Linked DNA regions of Homo sapiens. The protein of the gene in region 1 interacts with the protein of each later gene in a biochemical or structural test. Each region holds a gene or a part of one and is shown on either strand. Other genes may lie near its edges.

Region 1 (7,326 bases):
TCTTGAGCTCTCAATGCAGACATTTAAATGGCTGCAATCAGTAGAGTGACCCGCGGATGGCATAAATGCACCTCCTTTTCTTGGCCTTGGATCTATGGGTCTGGGATTGTGGTCATCTCCTCAATCCTCAAAAAGAGGCTGAATCAATGTGGCCGTGGGTGGGAACTTACATACAGAACCCAATGAAGAACTTGACTGTCTAAACAAGGGGGCCTCGCATGGAGCTGTAAAGCATCTAACAAATATGAAAAATGTGAAGTTCCAAGGTCCAAGAAGAAAAATAATGATGTTTCTGAAAGTGATGATAAATAATTACTTTTAAAGTGCTGCATATTTATACAATTGAGAGATTATTTTTGTAAATGCAATGTCTGTGAGCTGGGATACATGGGCAGTGCTTCAGACATTTAAAAATCACTTTTTACTCCTAGGGAGATGCCAATAAACAGAACTCTTTTGTTTCTTCTGAGTCCTTATACATTTGTTTTATTTTTTCAAGTTTGTGTTTCTTCTTGAAACGATTCTTATTTATTACAAAATCTTGGTATCTTGAACACAATTATGTTCTCTATAGATGAAGGAAACTCAACACTAATTCTGGTTTCTGGAACCTTCATGCTCTCCACTTTTGCCCCCCTCCCTCCCTTTTGCCCATGACTTTAACATAAGTAGTGATGTTTTAAAATGAGGATATCATTTACAGTGTTTAAAATGATATTTTATACCAGGCCAGCTCAAAAGACAATAAAATTTTACTTTTCTTTCACTATTGTCAATTTATTTATATAGTTCTATTTATTTTTTAATCCATATGTATTTGTATGCCTGTGCATAGAAAAACTTACTCACTTGAAAATTTTCAACCTGGAAAGACCATTATAAACATCTGGACTAGGAAGGTCTTGAAATTAGAAAGACATACCCATATTTGGCAATCGAAAAAGAAACATTTCAAGCTTATCCCATATCGCCTTCTCCGGGCAGTCTGCACAGAGCAGTTGACAACTGAAAACATAAAACCTAAACTTTCAGACGCAATTTTTAGGCACTAGAATTTTCTGTTTGAGGCCTTTTTGCCACTCAGGGAAATGGCCGATGAGGAACTGGATGACTCCTCATGGTTAGCTCCCCACACAATCAACTCAGTGGTTGCTAAAGTTTTAGTGTGTAAGTTAGTTACATAGTGATATTTAAAACCTCACTTAGTGTGAAAACTCTCCTGGTGGGAGGGCTCCCTCATGACTTTGAGAGAGAAAACGCAGAGACCTAAGACTTGGAGCTACTTTCGTTTTCCCTGTCCCAGCTTGATTTCTTTCATATCTTACTGGCGACCGTGGACAGCTAACTTCGATTTTGAGGGGGAGGGACAGAGACAGAGAAACAGAGAGAGATATGATCGCGATTCAATCTTTGCAGAAGAAATAACCCGTGCACAAGGGGCCACACCATCCCCCACCTTACACTTCGGGAAGGGTCGTTACCGTTTTTGTGGTTTTTCTCAAAAGATGTGTTTTCATCAGAAACGGGCACATTTTTCCTTTCTCCTAATCGCCAACTTCCCCTCCATTTTTTGTGAGTCCCACACTCCGGAGCTTCACTCCATTTCCCCTGTCTATTTCTCGGGTTTCCCATCGTGGGTAGGGGAGATTGCCTCGAGGCTTTCCTTTCATCTCTAGTTTGCATGTCACTTCCCCCCCTCCCCCCGCCTTGGAGAAATGGTAGGTTTGCTGAAGATTAAAACTGTGCTCAAACGCTCTCTGGAGGAATTTGGATTGAGGGCTAAATCAATAACAGAAGAAGGCTTTGTTATTCATATGCATTCCCTTTATATTCCAAATTGCAGAGGGAGGAGAGGAACTGGTAAGTGGCCCAGGCACTGGGAGGGAGGCCCTCGGGGAACCCGGAAGGCTAAGGGGGCTTGGAGAGAGGCCTTTCCTTCGGTTGGAGACAGGCGGCAGGAGAGCTCCTCAGAAACCCGGCAGGTTTTTAGCGCCGCGGGTGGGGGAACGAGGTCCCCGTGTCGCGTGATTCAAGAGGCGAAGGAAGCATTGGAGCCGGGACTCACGGTCAGACAAAGGGGCGACTGCAGTGCTTCCCCGCCTCTGGCAGCCCCCTGGGTCCCTCTGGCTCCGCTGTCAGGGGCGGCCTTGCCGCCAAGATCTCCGGCTTTCGGAGGCGCTAGGCTGCGTCTGAAAGCGGGCTGGCGACCCCAGGGAGGCCGCACCGCCCTTCACTGTTGATCTTGACCGTGCGGCTGCGCCCCGATAGGCATGGAGCGCGCTCGCCATCTCCTGGGCATTGGGCGGCATTGGCAGAGCTCTCTATTCGCTCCTCAGCCAAATCCTGTTCCATTCTCTTAATCACCAGCCAAGCCACTCTCCCGCCACTACTTTCCACCCCGATCCTCCCTCGATCAGGTTCCCCAGCTCGCATAAGACTTTGCCTGCCAGACCTCGAAAGTCATAAACCCGGGGGATGAAGTGGGAAGACTGTCCAAGGAGCAATGGAGGGAACCTAGTTGTTCTTGTTTTTCCTGTTTTTCACTGAGTTCTTTTATGCCTTTAGTCCTGAGGCGCAAACAGCTGTTGTAGGGCTGCCTAAAGGTCCGAAAGAGACACCCCTCGGCTTGGAAATAACGAGGAATCGTCGTGCACTGAAACGTGAGGAGAGACTGCAGGGACCCCTGGAGCTGGAGCTTTCGGGAGTAACGAAGCTGCAGCTCCTCGAAAATAGGATGGGTTCCCCAAAATAAGAGCTCTTAGGGATCTGAGGCTTGTATTCCCTTGAGTATCTAGGAACTGGGATTGCAGTTTGTGCTTGCCCCCACCTCCCAAGAGAGGACGAGAGCGAGTGAGTCTCTATGCCTGGGCTCCTAAGGAAACTCTCTGGCAGAGCCAGAGGAGCCCCAGACATCCCCACCCCCCCGTCCTCACTCCCTCTCTCCCCCCCACCAGAGCAGGAGGAAGAGGCCGATTGCGTTCCCCAGAGCCACCCAATTGGTCGCCATAACTCACACAATAAAGTGGCAGCGCGGCGGTCAGTCTTGCCCTCCGGCGGCGCCTGTGTGGTCTCAGTGCAGGAGCCCGCGATCTAACCAATTCCAGCTTGGCTCGGAGACCGAGGGTCCTGCTGCAGGCTGAGACTGGCGCCGGTCACCGGGTCTCCCAGGGTCTTGGGATCAGAGGCAGGAGGGGAGGACCCCTAGTCCTCTGGCCGGACTAGGCAAGAGGGCCAGCGACGGGGTCTGAGCACACCGCTCCCGGCTAAGAACTGCTGCCTTTCCCACTTCCCTGTTTGTCAGACCCGTGAACTCCCTATCCCCGGCACCCCTGGGGGCGCTGAGGCAAGGAACTCTGCTAGCCAGCTGCCTCCGAACGCCCGCTGTTCCCCGGCCAGGTGGTTCTGGCTCTTCTGCCTTTCCACACCCAGTCGGGGGAGTTCGTCCTGCTTTGCCCTCCACTTGGTGGATGGGGACACCTCGGAGTTCTGGTTTGCAGTGTGTAGTCCTGGAGAGGACTCCTGAAGATAAAAGGAATGTAGCCTTTGGCCACGATTGGTGGATCGAGCTGATGGGTTCCCTGGCGGACATTCTCCATGGACCTGTATGGCAATTTCCCTATGATCAGAGTTCTTAGCCATGGGGACACAAACCAGAAATAGTGTGGCCTCCTTCCTGGATCCCAAAATTGGGTAGTTTGTGATGCCCTTTTTGTGTCTGCGGCCTGGGACTGAGGGCTCAAGTAGCGAATGGGTCTTTGCTGCCAGATCCTCAGGCAGAGGTCTCTGGAGAAACCCTCTCTGTGGGAGTGATTGGGGTAAAAGTGACATTGCTCAGGCCAAGGGACAGAGCTCCTGGTGCCGCCGGACCGCGCCCTCTCCGGATAAGTCGAGAGGCGCCGGTTAATGGAAAATGCCTCCGCTGCAACTTAAAGCCGGTAGAAGCAAGCCGGGCCCAGAAAGCCTGCGGAAAACGAATCGCAAAGCCAATCACGACCAAGAAGAGTCCCAGGGGACACTTGGGCAGAGTCACCCTCTTGCCCGATGTCCCCAGCTGCTGAAGCCGGGCCTGGAAACCCGCAGACAGTTAGTCTTCGCTCAACCTGATTTGGCTCTGCTGGCAGCCTCGTCCTTCGCCATCGAACATTGCGGGTGTTATCATAATACTCTGAAGGGGGGGAAAACGGGTCGGGGGGATGTAGGCGGTGCTGAAATGACCGGCTTTGAAGAACCTGCAGGCAAAGTTTCGTCCAATCGTCTGAGCCTGTCCTCTTATTCCCGGTTGTAACTAAATACTGTTGCGAGCGCAGCCGAAGCCCTTTGTTGGAGATGTGTGAGCGCAGTCTCTACAGAGCGGGCTATGTGGGCTCGCTTCTGAATCTGCAGTCGCCAGACTCTTTCTACTTCTCCAACCTGAGGCCGAATGGCGGCCAGTTGGCCGCGCTTCCCCCTATCTCCTACCCGCGCGGCGCGCTGCCCTGGGCCGCCACGCCCGCCTCCTGCGCCCCCGCGCAGCCTGCGGGCGCCACTGCCTTCGGCGGCTTCTCGCAGCCCTACCTGGCTGGCTCCGGGCCTCTCGGCCTGCAGCCCCCAACAGCCAAAGACGGACCCGAAGAGCAGGCTAAGTTCTATGCGCCCGAAGCGGCCGCTGGGCCAGAGGAGCGCGGTCGTACCCGGCCGTCCTTCGCCCCCGAGTCTAGCCTGGCTCCTGCAGTGGCTGCTCTCAAAGCGGCCAAGTATGACTACGCTGGTGTGGGTCGTGCCACGCCGGGCTCCACGACCCTGCTCCAGGGGGCTCCCTGCGCCCCTGGCTTCAAGGACGACACCAAGGGCCCGCTCAACTTGAACATGACAGTGCAGGCGGCGGGCGTTGCCTCTTGCCTGCGACCTTCACTGCCCGACGGTAAACGGTGCCCATGCTCCCCGGGCCGGTTTGGGCCGGGATGGGAGGTGGGGTTCAAGGGAGAGTGTAAGGGGAGGTGAACCGCCTGGGGGCGGGCAATAGACAGAGTACGGGCTGGGTTGACGTGGGTTGGGGCTGTGTTGCAGGCCTGCCGTGGGGGGCGGCCCCGGGGAGGGCCCGCAAGAAGCGGAAACCCTACACGAAGCAGCAGATTGCGGAGTTGGAGAACGAATTCCTCGTCAACGAATTCATCAACAGGCAGAAACGCAAGGAATTGTCCAATAGGCTGAACCTCAGCGACCAGCAAGTCAAAATCTGGTTCCAGAACAGGCGTATGAAGAAGAAGCGCGTGGTGCTTCGGGAGCAGGCGCTGGCGCTCTACTAGCCGCGCGCGTGGCCAGGGCCGGGTTGGATCTGCCCTTTTGGACAGAGGCCTTGTTTGGGGAGGGGGATCTGGGGCTAAGGCTAAGGCTTTTCCTTCGGTTCCTTCTCTGCTGGCCCCAGAAGCCACCAAGAGATTTACAGACCAGGCCAGTTGGGCCTCCTTGCTTTCCTCAGTCCCTGAGAAGCCCGTGAGAAACGTGCGGAAGTACCAGTGCAACTCTGGCTGGCCTTAAGGCTTCCACGTTGGGGGACTGAGGCCAACTCTCCTTGCTCCTGGCTGGGGCATTTGCACCCACCGCTCATTCTTGCTCCCCGGTACCTGGATTTTTCTGTTTCCACCCAATTCGTTCTCCCTTTCCCCCTCTCTCCAGCCCCTTCAGCGTATAGCAGTCGCCTAGTTAGGGCTCAGAGTGGAAGGCCTCCTGAGGGAATGGAAAGGACTGTGGGTACAATTAGGTCTCTGCAGCAGAAGCCCTTTGTGGCAAGGCCAGGATCTTCACTCTGGAGAAAGGAAAGGGCACCATCCACCCTCCACCCTCCTGTCTGCCCTGGCTGATTTGAGAGAACAAAAGCCACACTAGATCTTCAGACTTTGGGAGGAAAAGGGAGGGAAGGGGAGGGGCTGGGTAGTGGGGTAAACTTGGAGATATCTCGAAATGAGAAATGCGAAATAGGCTGGCCTATTTCCAGCTGGGTAGAATATGTGGAACCTTCATTTCCTGAGATGGGATGAGAGAGACTGGGACTCCAGACAAGTGCCATCTCCAGACAAGACTGGCAAACATTGCCCTACTCCCACCTTCTCAAACATGCCTAGGCCAGGCCTATGAACCCTGTAACTGGATCCCCAGAGGCTAGCTCTGGTGAAAGGAGCTGTTGGTCTGCTTTGAAGCTCTGTTGCACAGGGAGAGGGAAAAATATCCAGGGGAGGAGAAGGGAGTGAATAAGAGGAGGAGGGGTGCTGCACTCCAACTGTAAATATGGCTTTCCAGTTGAGGTGAGTAAAGGTGTTGGTGCATCTTTCTTTCTTCAATTACCTTAATGGAACCCCATAAGGATAGGCAAAAATCCTTCTCAAGAGTCAAGGGGAGGGGAAGGAAGTCTCTTAGATTCTCTGCCCCGCTAGCTGCTCTTGACAAAGCAAAGAGGACCAGAAGTTCCTCTCACCGTCTCTACCATCTGCCAACTCTACCAGAGGCCCAGCTACTGTGCCCCTTCTGAGGCATGTCTGGCCTGTCCCAGTGGAGACTTTAAGGCCCTGGGCCCTGCCAGGCTTGCCTCATGGAGGCAGGGGTTCCCAAATGCCAGGTGGAGTTGTTCTGGGTGTACTGGAGTGTCCCGCCTTAATCTCAGTGAACCAAGCCTCCCCCTGCGAGCTCATTCCACTATCCCTGCCTCTTCTCCCCTCTCCTTCTGACATGTAGCACTCCTCCTTCGCAATTCCTAGCATGATGCACAACAACTCAAGGATTCAGGATTCCTTCCCAAAGTCCAGTGATTTCTTTTCAGTGCAGGACCTGGCCCTAAATCTGGAGTGGGCCCCTCACAGAGAGCCCTGAGCCTTAGCCCAACTGACTTCAGTTGATATTTAAACTAATTTCATTTTCTAGGCTATCTAATAGTTATCATGCATGTTTTGTTTTGATTTTGTCAAAAACAGTAGCTTGTATATATCAGACACAATATATACAAATGTTTTGAGTGAAAATAAATATCCAGGTCTGAGCCAAGCTGTCAAGGAGCTGAAGTCAATTTTTCAAAATGTTTTGGATTCCACCTTAATGTTTTTCAGGCCACCAAATTCGTTTTTCTTTTCTGGTTATTGTTTCACCGCGAGTGTTGACTGTTCGTTAAATGAGAAAATGGCTTCCGAGGCAGTCAGGAAATGGTGTGTAAAAGCCTACAAACCAAATATGTTTGGAATATCCAAAAGGGAAGGACCATGGCAGATCTGAGTGTGTCTCACACATTAAGGGGACTCTCAGCTTGTTGCAAGCTGGGACTTCCACACTTAGCCTAAATTCTCAAATTTTAAAGCTTGC
Region 2 (7,998 bases), on another chromosome or scaffold:
AATACACTTTTATTTTGGTATTTTTGTCAGTGCAACTTAAATCCTTTTACTGACCTGCAGAAAAAAAAAAGTAATAATAAAGAAAAACACCCATATCTTCCCTATAACTACTATACAACTGAAGAATTGAAGGGGGGGGACACCACCAAGAACTCTTCCTACTATCTCAAAAGCAGGGAAAGAAACGCAATGCATTGGTCTAAAGAACGCACTTGAAAGTTGCAAAATTACTTGCCAATGTTTGGGTTTCTGGTACATTCTGAGCATAGCAGTTGGTTCAGTGCAGTGTCTGCTTACCAGTGCACTGCCAGGGTCAGGGATGGCTAAGCCTCTCACCCTAGGAGCGCTGTGGCTCCTACAATTAGCGCAGGCCCAGAGGGTTCAGAAGGGACCTCAGGGTGATTCTGGTTACAATAAAAAGCAGAGGGGAGGATCTGTTTTCCTTTCCTTTCCTTTCTTATTAAGGGTATCAATTTGACCATAAGACAAGGCTGTAGTCCAGAACACTCCTCTGGGGTGCGGAGCTTGGCAGCTTCCCTGCCCTGCCCTGCCCTTGTACTGGGACCTCTCGGTTCTCTCTCTCAGCACCAACAAGGTTGAAAACTAAAGCGAGAGAGGAAAAAGAGGACCGAATGGGGATAAGGGAAGGAAAGAAAACATGCAACTTCCAAGTGTGCCCCAAGACAAAGTTGTTTTCTGATGCAAAATGCCCGGAACTTTTTCTTTTTTTTTTTCTTTTTAACTTACAAACAAAAATACCGTAATAATAAACCCAAACAAAGACCCTCAGCTTGCTGCCACGTTCTCTATGCGGTTTGGCGGGGCGGGTATTTACAAGCCTACAGCTGGGACTGAAACCCCGCACGCAGCCGCCGGAGTTTCCAAACTGCGATCCCTTCTCACCCAAAGAAACAAGGGGAGTATGATCCATGATCAACAACATGCTAAAGTTAAACAAGAAAATGGTACAAAATAGAAATTATTACCATACATGTCCAGCATGCAGGATTAATATTTTTAATGCAGATTTTTTGTATTTTTCTATATAATCGAGCAGGCAATAAAACTGATGAGATTTGGGCGCCGAGCGTCCTAACTGAGGCCTGTGTCTCAGGGCTGAGAGCCAGTGTTCTCCGAACTCTGACAGACAGGTCCGTCTGTCCTTCCTTCTTTCGCTCAGCCTCGCCTCTCGCCTGCCGGGACGCCAGAGTCCCTCTCCTTTCCTCGTTGCTCTCTTCCTGGCGCGGACTACTCTCCGGGCAGCAAAGCAGCTGTCCCGGCTTAACGCGCAAAGTTCAGAAAGCCAGGAGTCTCCAGATGGCCTTGGTGACTTCTCGGGACTATGCCTCGCCGCCCTTCAGCCTGGAGAGAAGTTACTCCGGGACCTCCCACCCTCTCGTCTCTCTCTCCGGCTCTGCTCGAGTCTAGGAGGCGGCGCTGGCGTGCGCTACTCTCGCCTTAGCCAAGGTCCCCTGCCCGCCCGCGCACCCGCCCGTCGCCCGCGGCCCGCGCGCCCTTCCTCCCTCTCGCTCAAGTCAAACAGGTCAAGGCTGGGGCCGCGGCAGGGACAGGGTCCGGGGTAGTCTGGGACTAGGGACGTGGGACAGGGAGTCCGGGCCGGGGCAAGGGCGGGGGCCAGGACCGGCCACGACTCACAGAAAGAACTCGGGAGAGGAGGGGCTGTCGCTGGTGGAGCCCGCCTCCCTGAAGCCGGAGTTGGCGAGTTTCTCGCACTTGACCTTGTAGGCGTCTCTCTCGCGGGCCAGCCGGGACACCTCCTGCTTAAGCTGCTCCACCTGCTGAATGAGCTGCGTCTTCTCATTCTCCAGGTGGTGCTTCTGCTGGACGCGTTTATACCTGCAAGACTGGGCGTAGCCCCGGTTCTTCAGGGTCCGCCGCTTCTGCTTCAGGCGGATCACCTCGTCCTTGGTGAAGCCCCGCAGGTGGCGGTTCAGCTCGCGCACGGACATGGACACGAGCTGGTCGTCGGAGAAGCGGTCCTCCACGCTGCCGTTGCCGCCCGCCGCCGTCGCCGAGGCCGTCGCGTGCGGCCCGGGCCCGGGGTGGCTAGTGGGCAGCTGTTGCGCCGGGCTAGCGGCGCTGGACGGCGGCGGCGACGCTTGGTGATGATGGTGATGGTGCGGGTGAGCGTGCGGGCCCAGCTCGTCGTGGGCCACGCCGGCGCCCGGGTACGCGTGGTGCGGGTGAGGGTGGTGGTGATGGTGGTGGTGGTGAGCGCCGCGAAAGCTGTCGAAGCTTTGCAGCGGCTGTGGCACTGGGTGCGAGCCGATGAGCGCTTCCACCGCGTCCTCGGGCGTCAGGTTGAGCGCCTCGGGGTTCATCTGCTGGTAGTTGCTCGCCATCCAGTACAGATCCTCGAGGTGTGTCTTCTGTTCGGTCGGGCTGAAGCTGGGCGACGAGGGCACGGAGCTACACGGAGTGCTGAGCGGTGTGGAGGACACCGAGCCGGCTGGCTGCAGGCGTGTGCAGGGCCTGCCCGGACGCTCCGCGCGCCCCAGTGGCTCCTTCTTCACGTCGAACTTGAGCAGGTCGAAGTCGTTGACATACTCCATGGCCAGCGGGCTGGTGGGCAGCTCTGGCCCCATGCTCAGCTCCGCGGCCATCGCTGAAGCGAGGCGCAGCCGCCGCTGCCGCCCGGGAAACTTTGCGGCCGGCCGGAGCGCGCCGAGCCAAGCGCGGGGGGGAAGAGCGGAGAAGAGCTGGGGAGGCGGGGAGCGAGGGCGCAGCGGGCCGGGGCCGCCGGCCAAGCCTTTGTCTGGGGACGCGGCGGCGCGCCGGAGAGTCCCGAGGCTGCCTGCACCGCCCCAGAGCTCTGGGCTGTGCCCGCGCAGGGACCGGGCCGGGTAGAGTCGGGCGGGGTGGAGAGGCAAGCGGAGCGCGCGGTGGGGCTGAGGGGAGGCGTGGGGCGAGTGCCCGTTGCTCGCTCTCTAGCTCTCTTGCTCTTACGCTCTCTCGCTCGCAGCCGCTCGCAGCTCGGCGGTGCAGCTGTGCTGGATCCGGCGGCGCCGCAGCCTTTTATCGCCTCCTGATGTCACTGGGGTGCGGGGGCCCGGGCGGCCCGGTGCGCGGGCCAATAGCTGCACGGCCTCCGCGGCCCAGCGGCGCAGGGCGGGGCGCGCCTGACAGCTCCCCCGCCCCCCGCGTCAGCTGACTGGCGGCCCGAGCGGCCCCGGAGCGGCGGAGGCCTGGCGGAGCGCTGGAGCGGAGTGGGACGGCCAGCCTGGGCCCACCCCCGTACCCTGCAGGTCCCGGCCCACGCACGCTCGCCTGGAGTGCGCGCCCCACCTCTAGGCCAAATCACCGCTTTCCCCTCCTCGCGCACTCTCCTCCCTCAGTTCCCTTTGCACCCCACCCCCATCCCGTGTCACCCCCAAGGAGGCTCAGAATGAGCGCCGGGACAACGCCTCCTGGGCCCTTTGTTCCCAAGCGGCCCCCGCCCAGTGGGCGACGCTCTGTGTGTCCTCGCGGCTTCTGGCCGTGTGTGTCGTGCGTTCCTGTTTCTGGAGATCTGCGCGTATTTGTATGTTGGGGAGGGCGGGCTCGAGGCTCCGAGAGTTGTGTTCAGACCCAACTCTTAACCTCAGGGGACCTTTCTCAGGCCAAGCGAGGGCCCCTCCTGGCGGGTGCAGTCGCAGAGCCCTGAGGTTCGACTCCACTGGCCCCGCCGCTCCCCGCGTTCACCCCACCGCACAATGTTCACAGTGAAGGCGACGGGAAAAGCAGCAGCCCAAAGGCTCTGAATTCCTCTTCCCCGCCACACGCACGGAATCCTGAGCCCCCGGAGCCTCGGGGCCGAGGCCGGCCCGGGACGGTGCTCCGAGTAGCTCTCCACTGCTGGGGAGCCGGCCCTGTTTTTGTTTGAACGTTTTGTAACGATTAAGCAGATCCCGGCGTCAGCCCGCCGCGGAGAGGCTCAAACAGGCATAAAGTGCGACCCCAAGTGGCCACTGTGCGCAAAGGCGCCGCGACCGCCCGGCCCACGGCCGGAAGGCTTGGACGGCGCCTCGTACCCAGCCAGGTCTCCCCTACCTGGCCCAACCCAAGCCAGCCCAGAACGCATACTATGTGTGCACCAGAGCCCAGGACAGGTTCCCCTCGAGCGATGTACAGGTCCTCGGGTCCCGTCTTCGTACTCAGCCGCGAGCCTCGAGCCGCGAGCTCCGCTCTGGTCGCCCCGTTGAAATTCCGTGCCCCAGCGTTCGGGGGTGCCCGTCGGCTGCTCCCTGGGCCGGAAGGTCCTGGGCGGAGGAAGGCCGGTAGCCAAAAGTGGAAGCGCCACAGTGAAGCGGCCCAGGGCCACCGGGTGAGAAACCTCCCCGGAGGGCAGACGGGGAGACCGAAGCACACCGCACTAGGCATCCAGACTGGGCTTGGGAGCCGCGCACCCTCCCTACCCAGATCCAGGATGGCTAGAATTAACGGGTTCTTTCTGAGACCTCGGCTCAGGCGCCGAAACCGGATAGATCGCGAATTCGCTGGACCCGGAGACCCGACCCGCCTCCCGCGTCACCTTCTTCTTTCTAGCTTTGGGCGCGCGCAGCGAAAGGCAGGAGAGGCGCGCACTGGGTGAGTGAGTCCCGGCCGCTGTCTGCGCTGGACCAGCCCGACTGACCTCGCGCGTAGGGGTCGCGTGAGCCACACCGGTGCAGACGCGCCTAGATTATTTTTAAATGTTAGAAGGTAAAATATTTGCCTCCAATTAATCTGAAAACTCTCTATTCTCTTGCGCCCTCGGAGAGGCTGGGGTACGGCGTGGTATTGGGCCGCCTATTTTTAATAAAATGAGTGTATTTTAACTAAAACTTAACTCAATCTTGTGGGGTGGCAAATTAAATGCTGGAAGAGCGCGTCTACAACCCTCTTCGAGAAGCGTGCTCTCCGCAGAAATGAGTCGGCCGCCTGGAGAGAGAGCCTGGGCGGTGCCGCTGCGCAGCCCCTGCCAGTAGCTGGGGGTTGGGGACTCGCACCTTGTAAATGTCCTCGTCTTGTTTGAACGCAGTGAGAGCACACTCGTTTCCAGATCACTCGGGACCGGGTGTCTCGGATCTGTGCAGACTATGTATGGCTCCGGCCTCAGGCGGCCAGGGCGGGACAAGCACGCCTGACTCTCTTGGTCCCGACTGGACTAGAGCTGGTAGCACCCTCCCTCAGGGTCCTAAGAGACCTGTGGCTCCCAGAGTGTTTCTGCCACTGTGGACTTCTGCGCGGGCACCAAGATGGACAGGCCAAGCTGTGACCCACTCCACCCCCGCCCATACGTCCCCTCGGCTCTGCCTGACACTGGCCGTCGAAGACTTCCGTGGCCCATTAAGGCCCTGGGGATTCCTGAGGCCCCAGGTCTGCGGTTCCGAACCTCCTCTTCTCCTGCGGGCGGCCTGCCTCCGACTCAGGGTCTCTTGGACTCGGGCTTTGGGCAACCGCGCTCTTCTTTGTCCCTGTGCCTCTGTCTCTGTTGTGGTCACTCCCTTCGCCTGGGCTTTGACTGTGGTATCTCTGTCCATCCCCAGGCTCACTTCCCCACCCAAATCCGTTTCTCTGCCCCTCTCCCAGCTTAGCCACTCCCTCCTCTGCACACCCCACAACCTACCCCACCAAAAAAAAATGTTGGAAACAGCCCTACCCCTGCCAGGCTGTGGGTGAATGACGGAGACATGCAGGTGGCCGAGGAGTTAAGGCCGCTGCTGCGCAGCCGGCCCCACTTCGTGGCCTGGCCTCCCCCACCCCGGTTACTGCTGCGCTGACTTGGAGCCCCAGGCCCTATAGCCTCCAACTTCCGACTGCTGTCGCGGGATGCCGCTTCTCATCTCTGGGGTCTCTGGATCAGCATGCCAGGCTCGGCTCCCCGTCATGGATACACAGCAGTGCCCGCAGTCTTCACCCTATCCCTAAAACGTAGGCAGGGTTGAGGTGAGGAGGGTGAGGGATTGCTGCTGTATACCTATTGACTGGGAGTCCGACACGCTCAAAGAAAAAAAGTAAAAGAAGGAACGGTGGAAGAAGTGAAGGGTCGAGGAGAAGTAAAGGGAGGCCAGGAGACACGCGAGCAGTGCACGGAGTCCCAAGGCACACTGAAGGAAATGCACGGAGTCCCAAGGCACACTGAAGGAAAGTCGGGGATTTTGCGGCAGCCACAGCCCCTCTAGTGAACAGCTTGTTGCCAAAACTCCCATTTAAGGTGTTTACCCAAGAGTGACCTCCTCTCTACCCACGCCAGGTTGGGCCAGAGGCTATGCCTCTGGGACGCACCGCCTCGGGATTCTTTAGCTACAAATGGTGATGGAGGAAGCTCTGCAGGGTCCGAGCCGCTGCAGAGCCTTGGAGCATTCGGGGTAGGAGTAAGAGAAGAGGTTATTCCCTAAGGGAGCGTGGAGCCCACAGCCAGCCGCCAGGTGTGAGGTTTGCCGCGCTGCCCTCGTTGGCCCCCACTCAGCCGAGGGAATAACTCCAGAGAGGCCCGGCGGCGTGTCCTCCCGTACGCCTGGAAACCAGAGCGGCATTCCTGGCATCCTCATTCAGCCCGAAGGTGCGCCGTTCACCTTCGGCGTTATTTCCCTGAGGGTTGCAGGTGGTTGGTGAGCGAGGAGGCGTCTCTGTGCACGCATGGGTGCTGTTGGAGGCGTGCGGGAGGGGTGTGTTCGTGCGTGTGCTGTTTGCGCGCGCGTGTGTGTTGGTGGAGAGGCGCAGCAGCACGCGGGATGCGGGAGCGGGAAACTTCCAGCTTCAAAGCTCGGTGGGCTCCGGATCGTACTATGCGGAGTCGCTAAGCAGAGGCCAGTGGTCTCAAGGGCCTCAGAGGCAAGTTCTGCCAGGGAGGGTCCTGAATCAGGGGACCCCCACCTCCCGCCTGCCGCAGGAGCTTGACTTCTGCCTTTGCATCACCCAGATGTAGTGTCACCTGTCTTTTCCAAGGAGCCCTCAGGTCTCTGCCACCTTTTGTGAGGCTCAGTGGAAAAGTATTATGTTGCTCCCATTCCGTGGGATCCTCCCAAGGTCTATGGAACCCAAAAAGAGACAGGAGGGTTTTCTGGGGGATTTTTGTTTCTGTTTTTTGCCCTTACTCTTCCTTTTCCTCTTCCCAAAGGCAGCTATCACTTCCACTTTCCCTTGCCCCATACAACCGCTGTCAGATTCCAACCCAGTGCTTCTAAAAAGGTATTCTTGGGTTTCTGGGTCCTGGTGGTCTTTAGGCAACCAAAAGATTCAGAGGGTCCCAGTAGGGAGCCAGAGTTACACTGACTGTGAAGATCCTGGCTGTCTCTCCTGGGGACCAGGGACAACACCCCAATACATGCAGAAATGTGCACGCGAGCACACACACACACTTAGGGGTAGGAAATTATTATTAAAACTATTTCACTGTTTTTTTTTACTGTGTTCTAATGTGACCAATAAATAATTTTAAATTACACATGTGCCTCACATTCTATTTCTGATGGACAAGCCTGCATTAGATAACCACTGGGCAGTATTGCTTCCAACACAGATGGGATATTTGATAATAGTCACTCTCATTTGTACAGGGAGTTGCAAAGCCTTTTGTCATTCACCTTTTTGTTTTGTTGTTTTTGTTGTTGTTGTTGGTTTGTTTTATTTTATTTTTTGAGATGGAGTCTCACTCTGTTGCCCAGGCTGGAGCCTGGAGTGCAGTGGCGTAATCTCGGCTCACTGCAACCTCCACCTCCTGGGTTCAATCGATTCTCCTGCCTCAGCCTCCCAAGTAGCTGAGATTAAAGGCACACACCACCACATTCAGCTAATTTTTGTATTTTTAGTAGAGACGGGGTTTCACCATGTTGGCCAGGCTGGTCTCCAACTCCTGACCTCAGATGGTCCGCCCACCTCAGCCTCCATCATTCACCTTTTCACTCAACTCTTACAACTCTGTGAAGTAGTAACTATTATTATCCCTATTTTACAGAGATAGGTAAGCAGGGAGATAAGTGGGTGGATGCAGATATATCACAGTGTCTTAAGAGC
Region 3 (7,501 bases), on another chromosome or scaffold:
TCCCGGTAACCAAATGTGAGTTGTTCTCTAACTGCACTGGAGAATCAGAATTTATTGTACATATGTTTGTGTTCCACTTAATAAAAAAACCTATATTTTAAGATAAACTTTGTTAGTAATTCATGAGGTAAGTGACTATTTATGCTAATCAGGCAGAAATATATTCTCAAGCATAATGCATTACATAAATTTGAATGTAAAATGTTCAATTATGAAGTAAATACAGGTAATGCAAATAATAAATTACCTCTAATAAAAATTATAAAAGATGTGCCTTGAAAGAGAGAGCGGCTTTAACTTACAACTGTGAATTGCTTAAAGAGAAAAGAATTAATAAATGCTGAATTACTCTGATGATTATTTAGCACATAATTCACCTATTCATAACGACTCCTAGTAATCAGACTGTTGTTTCACATCCTCCAACATGAGGCAAGACTGTTTCCTCAGCAATTTTGCCCTTATCAGATTATCTCGTCTGATTCTATTAATTTTCTTCCATGAATCTGCTAACAGTGATTTGTGATTTACTTACCCTGCTAACTGAAGACTGTTAAAAGGATTTATCTAACACTGGACCTAAGAACAGTGTACGCCTTATCGTTCAGTTACTCTGAAGAACTCTTTCTCAAATCAATTTAGTTGGTTTCATAGTGAAATTTAGTGGACACTGGTTAGTTCTGCCCCATAAAATCAGCCCCTAAACAAAGAGTCCAGACACCATACCTGATGCATCCCATTCTATTCAGATTATGGATGTCTGATTCCAACATGATATATTTGAGTTGCTATAACTCACAATCGGGGAAAATATATTCCTTTAAGCTTTTAATCTTTGTAATTTGGACATGAACAGGGGTTTTGTTTTTCATTTTTGCATGAAGTCATTATGTATGTACTGACGTGAAACTATAATTGTGTTTCTGATGTTACTGTGTCACAATATTCTATGCGATGTAACCCATGTCCTCCTCCCCCTCACAAATCTCCTATAAATATTCATTGCTTTCAAAAACTTTAATACTACTGGTCCGAATTGGTCAATAATGACAAATGCATGGTTTCTAAATTACTGTATATTGTTCTACAGAGATTACTAGAGTATATATAGCAAGGGGATGTTAAGCAGTAAGAAAACACAGTTCACATTGTATTTGGATTAGATTGGCTTGGATAGAAGTGAAACAAACAATGTTAGCAAAGAAGTCTAAAGACATGTGGCCCACTGTAATTGTACAGAATCAAAAACCTGAATAGTACTCATTAAAATGAGAGAGCTCAATTGTTATAAAAGAAATGCTGCTAACAGAGAACTGTAAATGTTTAGACACCCCTGTGAATCACTAAATAATAATGTAAAAAGGATAAAAATGAGAATTAAGTTATAAGCCTGAGAGCATTACTGCTACACATCTAAAAAAATAATTCTGATCCTCTCTTTTTTTTTTCCAAGAGAAAATGGGCGACTATAAAAGACCTTGCAATAAGAGAAATAAAAATACCATGTCTTCACAGCAGTGTACATAAATAAACCATAAAAATGTGCAGATAATAATATATTTAGCTGCCCAAACATGGGCATTTAATTTCTAGAAATGATATATAACAATGTAACAATTAGATACTCAGCCATGAATGTGTATGGCACAGTCTTCATCATTAGCAAACTTTGTGTATAAAATATTATTTATTATTTATTATAATACTGCTTTCAGAGGCAATGATCATACCTTACAGCTTTTAACACAAATATGATGCAAAAGGATTAAAAGTATATCATAAACAAACAATAAATTCTTTCTAAATACACTTAAATTCATATTTTACATGAAAAATATAAACTTCCTACATTTGTGACTACTGACTTTTAAAAAGACCTAGAAAACTATTGTTACGGGCAATGTTAAATGACATAATGCTTATGTAATGGAAAGTGTGGATTTTCCTCTAAATAAACTATAATCCCTTAACTTCATTACTAGGGAAAATATTGTTAAAGAGAAGGAAAGCAAGGGAATTCTGCTAGGTTGCATAAATATTGACATAATCTTCACTCTTTCTTCCCCAAACTGGTAATAGACATAGTTTATTCCACCCAACAAAATGCTCTTATAAGACCAAAACTACCCTTATTAACAACTTCTCTGCAGTCACGATGAAAAGAAACACTACTTGTCTGAAAAATACCGACAGCGCTGCCCTTTTCAGATTAGGGTGTGCCTACGAATCTTTTGGGAAGTCTTCCATTAAGGATTCCTGGGTTTGCTGAAACTGAAGTCTACTAGGATCAGAGAAATTAACACAGGTCTAATATGGTGCAAGGAACGAGTGAGAGACACCTGAGGTTATAAATAGCAAAGCATGCTGCGGGGTGGGGAAGACCATTCTGAAGTGCAATGTTCAAGACGCTGGCTTAATATATGACTAAGTGTCAGAAGTCAGGTTTTCTGAGAATTACTTTCCAGATAAACAACTTTATAGCACTGCACTTAATCTTACTTACTAGAGACATCTCATTTATCACTGAATTACAAGTAACTTTAATCCTATTGATATTGCCATAAAGCCCGTTGAAAATCCATCCTGGCACTTTTAAAGGGTTTGGGGCCCTGTTACATGGGGATCCTCTTGCAAAGGTCTCAGCCAGAAATTACACCCCGAGGGTGTCTGTATCCCCTGGCCTCTTTGTCAACAATCAAGGAGAAGAGGAGGGGCAAAAATGATCTCTGCATCTGCCAGCACTTTCTTCGGCCCCTTTCCTATAGGGTCGGGTTCTCCCACTTCAGTCAAACTAACTTTGTGTGTCTCTTTCCTCCTCCCACACTGGGTAACCAGCTGCTTTTCACTTCATCGACAAAACTGGACACGGATCAATTTCAACTGACCTTTGCCGAAAGGTGGCGCTGTTGAGGTAAAAACCAACTCGCTCCAACAATAGTTTCCACTCTTCGATCCTTTTGCAGGCTTTTCAGAATTTTTTTTTTTTTTTAATGCACCCTCCTAGCGTCTCCCCCTTCTCATAAAGTAAAATAAATACGATTAAAAACACCAAATGCATTTCATTAATTGAAGGAATCAACAGTCCCAACTTCTAAGCAGACGGGCTGGTCTTCCAAAGGCTGGGTCGGTTTCAGGAGCTTTCTCTCCAAATAAATCTCTGCTTCTTCGACTTGCCTATCGCTTTAAAATCTTAGAAACAGAGTTAGTTGTTGGTTTCCTTCTTTTTTCTTTTTCTTTTTTATTTCTTTTTTGCATAAACTTTTAGAGAATCAATCTAGAAATTTGAACTACTTATTAGCATTTGCAACTGGGGGTGGGGGGAGCAGCCTCCCCCACCCCACCCCCCACTCTGCGTTTCCGGACTAGTTCCAGAAACCGCGGTTTAAAATTTAACCCTTCGAGGGTAGCTGGTGAGGGCTGGGGTATTGTTTTTCCCCCTTGCTCCCTGCCACGATCAAGTCCGAAATAATTAAAGGAAACGTAAAAGTGCAAAGGGCGCGCCTGACCCTGATAAACAGAGGTCAGATTTCGTAAGGGGACGGGTGAGTGTGAGTGTGTGTGTGTTTGTGTGTGTGTGTGTAAGAGAGAGAGAGAGCGAGCGCGCAATATGAGTCTCAAAGGCCAAACTCCGGCCAGTCAGGAGCCGGAAGGCTGAGCCCGGCTGACCTGACTTTGAGCTTCCCCGGAGTTATCTCGCATAGGCGCTCGCTCTGTCCAAGGGCACGCGACGCCAGCGGGCAGCCGGTCTCCGTGAAGAATGGCCTCTAAACAACTTATTTTACCTCGTTGTAAAGAGAGGGATAAAATGGGCTTTCCCTCTCCACGGATGCCCAGCCTTCTGGGCAGGCGCATGGCCGGGCGGCGCCCAGCCCGCAGCCCCGATCCGGACACCCCACTGCATCCCTCCCTTCCCGGTCCCTTCCCCGCACGGGCGCCCGAGAGACGGACAAAGAGTTGGGGCCAAGTTTGAGCGCCGGGCACGGCCAGGCTCAGGGAAGGAAGGTCCCCGGCAGACACCTGGGTACCAGAGTTGGTGCGAGGAGGAAAAGCTGGGAGGCGAATTCACAATCCTGGGGGTGGAGGGCAGGCAGGGGAGGGGAATCAGGCCAATCCCAGCCGAGTGAGCCCCCAGCGAGCTGGGGCTCCGGATGGGAGGCCTGTCTCGCGCTCCAAAGAAAAGCAAACCGCCCTCCCAGGTCCGCCCGGATTGCCGAAGCCCCTCTGGAAAAACTCCTTCCCCTCTTACACCAAACTTTGCGCCGGGCCTCGTTCCCTCCCGGGTAGGCAGCGGCGCAGGAAGGGTTAAGCCAGCCCGTCCCAGCTGACAGTCAGCTGATTGGGCCCTGATTGACAGCTCCGAAAAGTTTCCTTGTTTCTATACTATTATGCTAATCGCGGCCGCTCTCGCCGCCTCCCATTGGCCCGGAGTGCCAGTCAATTTCTCATTTGGACCTGACGTCACGAGTGCTATAAAACTCAGCAATTGCTTTAAACTCTTCTTGCTGGATCAGAGGCTTTAAAATCTTTTTTCATCTTCTAGCTGTAGCTCGGGCTGCTTGTCGGCTTGGCCTCCCCCTCCCCCCTTTGCTCTCTGCCTCGTCTTTCCCCAGGACTTCGCTATTTTGCTTTTTTAAAAAAAGGCAAGAAAGAACTAAACTCCCCCCTCCCTCTCCTCCAGTCGGGCTGCACCTCTGCCTTGCACTTTGCACAGAGGTAGAGAGCGCGCGAGGGAGAGAGAGGAAAGAAAAAAAATAATAAAGAGAGCCAAGCAGAAGAGGAGGCGAGAAGCATGAAGTGTTAACTCCCCCGTGCCAAGGCCCGCGCCGCCCGGACAGACGCCCGCCGCGCCTCCAGCCCCGAGCGGACGCCGCGCGCGCCCTGCCTGCAGCCCGGGCCGGCGAGGCGAGCCCTTCCTTATGCAAAGCGCGCAGCGGAGCGGCGAGCGGGGGACGCCGCGCACCGGGCCGGGCTCCTCCAGCTTCGCCGCCGCAGCCACCACCGCCGCCACCGCAGCTCGCGGAGGATCTTCCCGAGCCTGAAGCCGCCGGCTCGGCGCGCAAGGAGGCGAGCGAGCAAGGAGGGGCCGGGGCGAGCGAGGGAGCACATTGGCGTGAGCAGGGGGGAGGGAGGGCGGGCGCGGGGGGCGCGGGCAGGGCGGGGGGGTGTGTGTGTGAGCGCGCTCGGAGGTTTCGGGCCAGCCACCGCCGCGCAAGCTAGAAGCGCCCCAGCCCGGCAAGCTGGCTCACCCGCTGGCCACCCAGCACAGCCCGCTGGCCCCTCTCCTGCAGCCCATCTGGCGGAGCGGCGGCGGCGGCGGCGGCGGCGGCAGGAGAATGGCATCAGAACTGGCAATGAGCAACTCCGACCTGCCCACCAGTCCCCTGGCCATGGAATATGTTAATGACTTCGATCTGATGAAGTTTGAAGTGAAAAAGGAACCGGTGGAGACCGACCGCATCATCAGCCAGTGCGGCCGTCTCATCGCCGGGGGCTCGCTGTCCTCCACCCCCATGAGCACGCCGTGCAGCTCGGTGCCCCCTTCCCCCAGCTTCTCGGCGCCCAGCCCGGGCTCGGGCAGCGAGCAGAAGGCGCACCTGGAAGACTACTACTGGATGACCGGCTACCCGCAGCAGCTGAACCCCGAGGCGCTGGGCTTCAGCCCCGAGGACGCGGTCGAGGCGCTCATCAGCAACAGCCACCAGCTCCAGGGCGGCTTCGATGGCTACGCGCGCGGGGCGCAGCAGCTGGCCGCGGCGGCCGGGGCCGGTGCCGGCGCCTCCTTGGGCGGCAGCGGCGAGGAGATGGGCCCCGCCGCCGCCGTGGTGTCCGCCGTGATCGCCGCGGCCGCCGCGCAGAGCGGCGCGGGCCCGCACTACCACCACCACCACCACCACGCCGCCGGCCACCACCACCACCCGACGGCCGGCGCGCCCGGCGCCGCGGGCAGCGCGGCCGCCTCGGCCGGTGGCGCTGGGGGCGCGGGCGGCGGTGGCCCGGCCAGCGCTGGGGGCGGCGGCGGCGGCGGCGGCGGCGGAGGCGGCGGGGGCGCGGCGGGGGCGGGGGGCGCCCTGCACCCGCACCACGCCGCCGGCGGCCTGCACTTCGACGACCGCTTCTCCGACGAGCAGCTGGTGACCATGTCTGTGCGCGAGCTGAACCGGCAGCTGCGCGGGGTCAGCAAGGAGGAGGTGATCCGGCTGAAGCAGAAGAGGCGGACCCTGAAAAACCGCGGCTATGCCCAGTCCTGCCGCTTCAAGAGGGTGCAGCAGAGACACGTCCTGGAGTCGGAGAAGAACCAGCTGCTGCAGCAAGTCGACCACCTCAAGCAGGAGATCTCCAGGCTGGTGCGCGAGAGGGACGCGTACAAGGAGAAATACGAGAAGTTGGTGAGCAGCGGCTTCCGAGAAAACGGCTCGAGCAGCGACAACCCGTCCTCTCCCGAGTTTTTCATGTGAGTCTGACACGCGATTCCAGCTAGCCACCCTGATAAGTGCTCCGCGGGGGTCCGGCTCGGGTGTGGGCTTGCTAGTTCTAGAGCCATGCTCGCCACCACCTCACCACCCCCACCCCCACCGAGTTTGGCCCCCTTGGCCCCCTACACACACACAAACCCGCACGCACACACCACACACACACACACACACACACACACACCCCACACCCTGCTCGAGTTTGTGGTGGTGGTGGCTGTTTTAAACTGGGGAGGGAATGGGTGTCTGGCTCATGGATTGCCAATCTGAAATTCTCCATAACTTGCTAGCTTGTTTTTTTTTTTTTTTTACACCCCCCCGCCCCACCCCCGGACTTGCACAATGTTCAATGATCTCAGCAGAGTTCTTCATGTGAAACGTTGATCACCTTTGAAGCCTGCATCATTCACATATTTTTTCTTCTTCTTCCCCTTCAGTTCATGAACTGGTGTTCATTTTCTGTGTGTGTGTGTGTTTTATTTTGTTTGGATTTTTTTTTTTAATTTTACTTTTAGAGCTTGCTGTGTTGCCCACCTTTTTTCCAACCTCCACCCTCACTCCTTCTCAACCCATCTCTTCCGAGATGAAAGAAAAAAAAAAGCAAAGTTTTTTTTTCTTCTCCTGAGTTCTTCATGTGAGATTGAGCTTGCAAAGGAAAAAAAAATGTGAAATGTTATAGACTTGCAGCGTGCCGAGTTCCATCGGGTTTTTTTTTTAGCATTGTTATGCTAAAATAGAGAAAAAAATCCTCATGAACCTTCCACAATCAAGCCTGCATCAACCTTCTGGGTGTGACTTGTGAGTTTTGGCCTTGTGATGCCAAATCTGAGAGTTTAGTCTGCCATTAAAAAAACTCATTCTCATCTCATGCATTATTATGCTTGCTACTTTGTCTTAGCAACAATGAACTATAACTGTTTCAAAGACTTTATGGAAAAGAGACATTATATTAATAAAAAAAAAAAGCCTGCATGCTGGACATGTATGGTATAATTATTTTTTCCTTTTTTTTTCCTTTTGGCTTGGAAATG
Region 4 (7,019 bases), on another chromosome or scaffold:
TCCGGCAGCCCCCACAGAGGACGCGGAACTTCCCGAGGGCCTTTCCATTATATGTCCCGACTCCCACGGGTGCAAGATACCAATTCCCACACACAGACACATCCTGCGGGGAGCAGGTGGCGGGCGTGAGTGTGTCTGTGGACCGGCGTGCAGCTCTGGGCCCACGGGAGCCCACTCTTCACCCTGCAATACAGTCTCTTCCTGGTGTGAGCTGCCTGCGCCCGAGGGGCCTGCGCTTGGACTCGGATGTCGAGAGTCTGCATCCCAGTGACAGGTACGAGGGGTGTGCCCCCACCCGCCTGCCCGCCGCCCGCCGCCCGCCACCCCCCGCCCCCGGCCGGCACTAGGATGCAGCCGAGAAGGGCACGGAGGTGGAGGAGAGCTCGGTGGACTTGACGATGGTGATGACGCTGGTGGTGGCCACCTTGGAGGGCGCCACAGGTCCCCGGGCCACGGTGCGCGCGAAGGTCTGCAGCGCCTCGTACTTGGAGCGCAGGGCGTCCAGCTCCAGCCGCATGCTGCTGTTCTCACGCGCCAGCTTCTCCACCTCCTGCTGCAGCTCCACGCGCTGCCGCTCCAGCTCCTCCTTCTGCGTCACCCGCTTGATGCGGCAGCTGGCCGCGTAGCCGCGGTTCTTGAGTGTGCGCCGACGCTGCTTCAGGCGGGTCACCTCCTCCTTGGTGAGACCCCGCAGGTGCTGGTTCAGCTCCCGCACCGACATGGACACCAGCTCATCATCGCTGAGCACCGGGGCGTTCTCGCCCGCCTCCTTCTTGACCTGGGGGGCCACAGTGCGGGGTCAGCGGCGGGAGAACGTGGGGTGTCTGCCTGGGACCGACACTGGGGTGGCCAGGAACCCAGCGGTGCCCCTGCACGCCTGCGCTCTCAGGGCTGGCCTTCGCCATCCGCACCAGGGACCACAGGACACTGTGCACGCAGGCAGCCCATGTGACAGCTGTGGCCCCACAGGACCCTTTCTGAACGGGAAAAGCCAGTGGTGACATCGGTCACTCCTGGTTACCGACAGCCTCAGAGCCCATGAGGACCCAGAGTGCATGGGTCCTGCTGCTGGGACTGAGCCGGCCCACAGGCACACGCCATTGTGGAGGCGGCAAGCGCCAGGCACAGGTGGGCTCGGGCCTTGGGAGCTGGAGCATCGCGTTCACCAGAGGCCACGCTGGCCACGCTGCCCACGCCTGGAGCCAGGGGATGAGCTCATGCAGTAGCGCCCGGCGGACACACAGCCCAGGCGGGAAGGCAGCAGACCCTGCCACGCCCTCAGCCTGGGAGTCATCGCCTGGAACCACAGTCCCCGATCCTGACTCCACCTCTCCTGTGAACATCCCTCGGCCACAGCAGCCCCCCTCCTCCTGGCAACAGGGAGGCCTCCATCACAGGCTCAGGACGGCCCTGGGATAGCAGGGGCTGTCGGGCCGGGGGCCTTTCCCACGCCTGTGCTTGAGACGGGGCCTGCTTGGAACCAGCCTTACCTTTAATGCCTTATTCGGTTTGGGATTAGTCGTCATAACCCGGGCACGGTCACCAGGACAGAGCTCCCTGGAACTCGTAGCTGGAAAACATGGACAAGCAGAGAAGCCAGCACAGGTCAGGGCCGGCAGCGCCGGACAGGGTGCCCACCTCCCATGCAGGGATGCTTCTCAGCCCGGGGTGGACAGTCACAGCACCATGAAAACAAGACGGGGCACCATCCGGGCCCAGCCCGTCCTGAGGGGCTTCCCAGGGGGTGAGGCATCCTGGCCCGGCCTCTGTCCCTGCCTGAGGGTTCAGGGAAAGGTCTGGCTGCACCTCACACTCTAGCACACTCCACAGAGCGGCTGGGACCCCACCCCAGGGCCTGGCAGCCAGGTGCGGCCCCCTGCTGCCCTGCAGACCTGGGCTGCAGCCGCCGGCACTGTGGGGTGACCAGCAGGCGCCGGCAGTGGCTGCTTCCTGTTCTGACTCTCCCTGAGGTCAGAGAAGACGTCTGCACCTGCACAGCACAAGGTGCCCCGTACCGAGGACCAAAGTGACTGGTGGCAAAACCTCCCTCCCTCAAGACAGCTGTGCCGGCCCCGAGGAGTGTGGGGCCCCGCTGGACAGCGACCCTACACTGGCAAAGGCTCCGGTGCTCCGGACCCAGCCTGGATCCCCGAGAGGGGGCCTCTGGGGAGCCCCTGACATCGCCATCCCCCACGGTGGGCCTGGGTGGAGGCCCAGCCGCCCTCCCGCCCCGCCCTCCCCACAGGCCACGGGACACCTACCACGGCCCTGGCCGCTGCGGCTGTGACATCACCACCTCCACCTAAGCTGCCCCCGAGCGAGGACCCTGCGGCCCAAGGGGGTGTGGGGTTCCTGAGGGGCGGCAGGTCCGGGGGCCGCAGCCAGAGACCAGGGAGGTGGGGGAGCCGCCGCCCTGCCGAGCATTTGACCGTCTGGCGGGAGTCGTCCCCGCCGCCGCCCCCGCCGTCCTCACGTCTGCATTGTGTCACACATTCTAATCATTCATGAAAAACCCAGCCAAAGCATCCCCGGCATGAGCCCTCCGATAGTTGCCATGGCGACCTTGGGACCGAGCCAGCCCCCACGGTTGTCATGGAAACCGAGAAGCCCAAACGCGATCCTGACTTCAGGTCAGGTTGCACAGACATCACGAGGCCGGCAGGCAGTCAACAAACCCATTTGCACCCGGCGGCCGGGACGGGCGGGCAGAAGGCGCCGGGCAGCTCGCGGGACAGGGGTTCACAGCACCCACTCCCATACCCCAAATACCAGACACAGGTTCCCACAGGAACATCAGAGCAGCACACGGCGGTGGGGGGTGTCCTTGGTCAGCACCTCCACTGGACATGGGCATCATGGGGGCGGGTGACCGCATCCCGTCCTCCCTGCCAGCCCAGGACCCTCCCCACACCCTGGGCCAGGGAGCCCTCGGGCCCAAATCCCTCCACCCTCCAGCCCTGCCTCCGATGGGGGCCCCACCCCCGCAACCCACAAACCCCCACAACAAGAGGGCCGCACAGGTGAGACAGGGTCCTGCGCCAGGCTGCCGAGTCCGCTGCCCCTGCCAAGGCCAGCTGATCTCAGGGCGCTGACGTAGATGGCACAGGATGGCACCAGCCGGTCCCGGGGACGGCCAGGTGGGCTCCAGGCTCCTTCGCACCACGTCCTGGGGTGAGGGTGACAGTGGAGAGGCTGGGGCCCAGCTGCCTCCGCCACCGTGGGGACCTGCAAATGCCGGCGGCTGGGAGCACCATGAGAAACTTTTCCATGTCAGAGGGAGGGGCCGCGGGCACCGCTTCCAGCTCCACTGCGAGCACGTCAGTGCACAGGCCGGCCACGACATAGCTATGCGGTGAGTCACCAGATGTTTACAGAGCCGCGCGCATTCCCACACACCCGGGCCTCCCACCCAGCAAGGACCCGCTCCTGGGCCCCCGGGCCCACTGCCCGCCGTGGCAGCACAGCCGGGCGGAAAAGGAAGGTCCGGGGGACAGGACCGTCTGGCCAGACCCACGGTGACGTGTGGGGCTCGGCCAGATGCCAGGGGCAGAGTTCAGCGTGGGGATCTTTCCACTAAAAAGATGCCTCCGCGATGCCCTGTGACACTGCGGAGGCACACGGTAGCCGGGGGCGCCCCAGGAGGGGTGGCTGACTACTTCCAGGAGGTCAAGGTTGCCAGGGCTACTGAAGCACGCCTGTGCCCCGCTCCAACCCCAGTACTTCGAGGCACACCTGCACTGGGGCCCTCTGAAGAATGAGGACCTGGCGGACGCAGGGCTCCCAGGCGGCCCCCACGCTGTGCTCGCAAGCCTGCCCCCCACCTCCTTGGGCAGGTCACGACTCTGCTCTGCCGAGGAAGCCTGGACCAGCCACGCGCCTGGAGAGACGACGCAGCGGGACGGCCCAGCCAAGCAGCAAAGCTTCTCTCAGGAACCCAGCACGGGATGGGATGGTGCTGGCGCCTCCCTCTCCCCACCATGCACAGAATAAATCCAAGTAGCCTTAACCTAATGTCGCTTTAAACATCAGAGGCAAGAAAGATGACAGCTTGCTTTTGGAAGGACATTCAGAGAAGAGTTTTGTATGCACAAAAAAAGTTTGTAAAGCAACTGATCTAAAAATGACGACTGCCCTAAATGGGGTTTTGTGAACTGTCCGACCTCACATGGCCTCCAGGGCCGCCAGAGCACATGTAGAAAGCGCTCCCACCCCAGGGCCAGAGACGCAGCCTTAGGGTGTCATCCAGGGGGAAAGCGTGCCTGGGGTCGCAGAGACGCCCGTGCACTACCCCGGGCCCAAGGCAGGGGCTACTGCATTAGCACCTGGTCAGCACTGCAGCCAAGCTCCCCTCCAGCAGCCCCCGAGGAACGACGTCCTCGCATTGTGTCTTACGCCCAGCAGCTAACAAAACACCAGCATCGCCACGCACAAGCACCCGACACCCCGAGCTCCTCTGAGTTTCGGTGGTCACCAGAGAAGTGCAGTGTTCAGCGCCACAGCGGGGGCCTGGGTGGGCGGGTCTGAGTTTCCGCTGTGGGGCCCCAGCAGCCGACGTAAGTAAGGGTGCAGCGCTCACGCCCCACGTCCCGGGAGCAGCGCCGGGCAGCAAAGTTCTCCGGCACCACCTATAACTTGGAACAGCTCTCAGGTAACTGGTTTTCGGATGGAAGAGGCAGGGTTTTCAACCCAAGGCCAGACACCTCGACGTGACGCAGAACTAAACAAGGCTCAGCGGGGGCATCACTTCCTCTCAAGGAAAAGGAACTGCCAGCAGCCTCAGACAGAGGCAATTCCTGCGGCTGCAGCTGGGGATGAGTGACGGAGCCAGGACGCCGGGCGCCCCTTTCCAGGATCCAGACTGAGGGCCTGGGCTCCATAAAGCGCAGGGCAGGGCGGCTCCGCCCAGGAAGGCACCTTGCAGAGGGTGAGGATCAGAGCCCTGGGCTCCCCCCGGCAGGGCAGGCAGCCCAGGGTCAGTCGTCCAGAACTGTGCTTTCAGGAGCAGGTGATCCCCAGGCAGCCACCTCAGCTTCTGGAGGATCATGTTTTCCCTTTTAATTTTCATTTTAGAGACAAGGTGTCACTCTGTCACCCAGGCTGGAGTGCAGTGGTGAAATCACAGCTCACTGCAGACCTCCTGAGCTCAAGCGATCCTCCTGCCTCAGCCTCCCGAGCAGCTGGGACTACGGGTGGGCACCCCCACACCCAGAGAATTTTAAACTTTTTTGTAGAGACAGGGTCTCACCATGTTGCCTAGGCTGGTCTCGAGCTCCTGGACTCAAGTGATCTTCCTGCCTCAGTCTCCCAAAGTGCTGGGATTACAGGTATGAGCCACCATGCCCGGCCATTTTTAACTTTTTAAGTCCCAGCAAATACTCACTGGTCACCCATGGGCCTGACCCTGCTCAGTGGGGGGCTGGCAGCCTTGGCACCTCTTGCTGTGCTGGCACAAGCTGAGAAGGACCTGCTTTGGGGTCCAGGAGGGAACATTTTCTCCACCAAGTTGGGACTGGGCACAGTGGCTCTTGCCTGTAATAGCAACGCCTCCGGAGGCCGAATGCTCGAGCCCAGTAGTTTCAGGCCAGCCTGGGCAACATAACAAGGCCCCATCTCTACAAAAAAAAAAAAAAAAAGAATTTTAAATAGCCAGTTGTGATGGCACATATGTGCCTATGGTCCCGGCTACTCGGGAGGCTGAGGTGGGAGGATTGCTTGAGCCTCGAAGTCGAGATTGCAGTGAGCTGTGATCACACCACTGCACTCCAGCAGCCTGAGTGACAGGGCAAGACCTTATCTTTTAGGAAAAAAAAAAAGAGAGAGTGCAAAAGTGAGTTGAGCAGCTGACGGCTGGATGACCCCTCTGAACGGTCCCGGCTGTGGATGCCCATAGAGAAACGGGGATTTCAGCTTTGGGGCTCTGATTCTTCCCAGATGAGAGGACGCATCGGGGCTGCCGCTCGCTCTACGAGGCCAGCATGGGGGCTCTGGATGGGTCACTTGTTCTTGCCCAAGGGGTGAATGATGACACAGACTCCATGCCCCACCCCCTCAGCTGCCCAGCCAGTCTGACCAAGACGGAGTGGCCCTTCCACTTCTATTCTCCGCGGGTCTCCGAGGATGTGGGATGCGGGAGAGGGAGGAGGGGCAGGAGGAAGACCAGGAACGGAGGACGGGAGCTCTGTGCGAGAGACACGGGTTCAGAAACCCAGCAGCACAGCAGCAAGCGCCCTCCCGCCCCCCGACCAGTGACTCCCACGGCAGGTGCAATCCACAAAACCAGAGGCCACCCAAGGTGTACCCGCCTCTCCCAGGAGCCTTTCTGCCAGAGACCCCAAGCCGGGTGCCCTCCACACTGGGCCGCAAGGGTAGGTGGGGCCGCTGTGGCACTGGTACCCAGTGGGTGCCTGTCAAACAGGTGTCAACCGACTAATTGCAGCCCAGCTGGTCCCAGAGACCAGCCAGACACCCTTCCTACTGAGGATGAGGTCCTACACTGCGAGGGCCCCCACTGTCCGGCTGTCCCGGACACAGCCCCACTAAGCATGCGGGAGGCACCCCACTTGGCACCCCGCAGCCCGGCCCATACCAGCCAGCAGCCTGGCCCTGGCTGGCTGCCCTCCAGCAAGCCATGACTGTCGGCCCGGCTTGGAGGACGTCTGGTCACCTTGCATTTGCAGTCTGAGGAAGCTGTGTCATTCCGCTACATCCAGAGGTGACTCAGGCAGCTGCAGCAGCAGAGAGCAGACTGCAGAACACACCACACCCCCTCCAGTCCCCGCCCTGGCTCCCACCACACCATCCTCCTGTCCTCGGCCTCCAGCTCCCCATCAGCATCCTGTTCTCCCCCGGCCGCCCTGGGGCTTCAATCCGCTCCCAGCCTCTAAGTCCAGTCAGGGGCATTCCGGGGGGCCCAGATGCCCCCCAGCCCCCAACCGCATCATTCACCGGAGTTGCCCCTGCCCCTCTCTCTTTTCCTCATCCACGCGCCAACCAGGCTTGATCCCAGCCCTCAAGCATCA

The links.
Region 2: the proteins of HOXD12 (region 1) and MAFB form a complex in vitro, tested with the Homo sapiens proteins (one study listed by BioGRID).
Region 3: the proteins of HOXD12 (region 1) and MAF form a complex in vitro, tested with the Homo sapiens proteins (one study listed by BioGRID).
Region 4: the proteins of HOXD12 (region 1) and MAFK form a complex in vitro, tested with the Homo sapiens proteins (one study listed by BioGRID).

What each region holds. Positions count from the first base shown.
Region 1 is NC_000002.12:176,095,476-176,102,801, forward strand, and holds HOXD12 (homeobox protein Hox-D12), read left to right. Parts: upstream 1-4,319; 5' UTR 4,320-4,326; coding exon 4,327-4,900; intron 4,901-5,046; coding exon 5,047-5,285; 3' UTR 5,286-7,014; downstream 7,015-7,326. UniProt on the Homo sapiens protein: Sequence-specific transcription factor which is part of a developmental regulatory system that provides cells with specific positional identities on the anterior-posterior axis.
Region 2 is NC_000020.11:40,686,227-40,694,224, forward strand, and holds the start of MAFB (transcription factor MafB), read right to left. Parts: upstream 3,011-7,998; 5' UTR 2,625-3,010; coding exon 1,653-2,624; 3' UTR 1-1,652.
Region 3 is NC_000016.10:79,597,735-79,605,235, reverse strand, and holds the start of MAF (transcription factor Maf), read left to right. Parts: upstream 1-4,498; 5' UTR 4,499-5,333; coding exon 5,334-6,451; coding exon of another isoform or gene 6,452-6,455; exon of another isoform or gene 6,456-7,501.
Region 4 is NC_000007.14:1,533,700-1,540,718, reverse strand, and holds part of MAFK (transcription factor MafK), read right to left. Parts: exon of another isoform or gene 5,839-7,019; intron 3,273-5,838; exon of another isoform or gene 2,262-3,272; intron 1,571-2,261; 5' UTR 1,527-1,570; coding exon 1,491-1,526; intron 779-1,490; coding exon 344-778; 3' UTR 1-343. UniProt on the Homo sapiens protein: Since they lack a putative transactivation domain, the small Mafs behave as transcriptional repressors when they dimerize among themselves.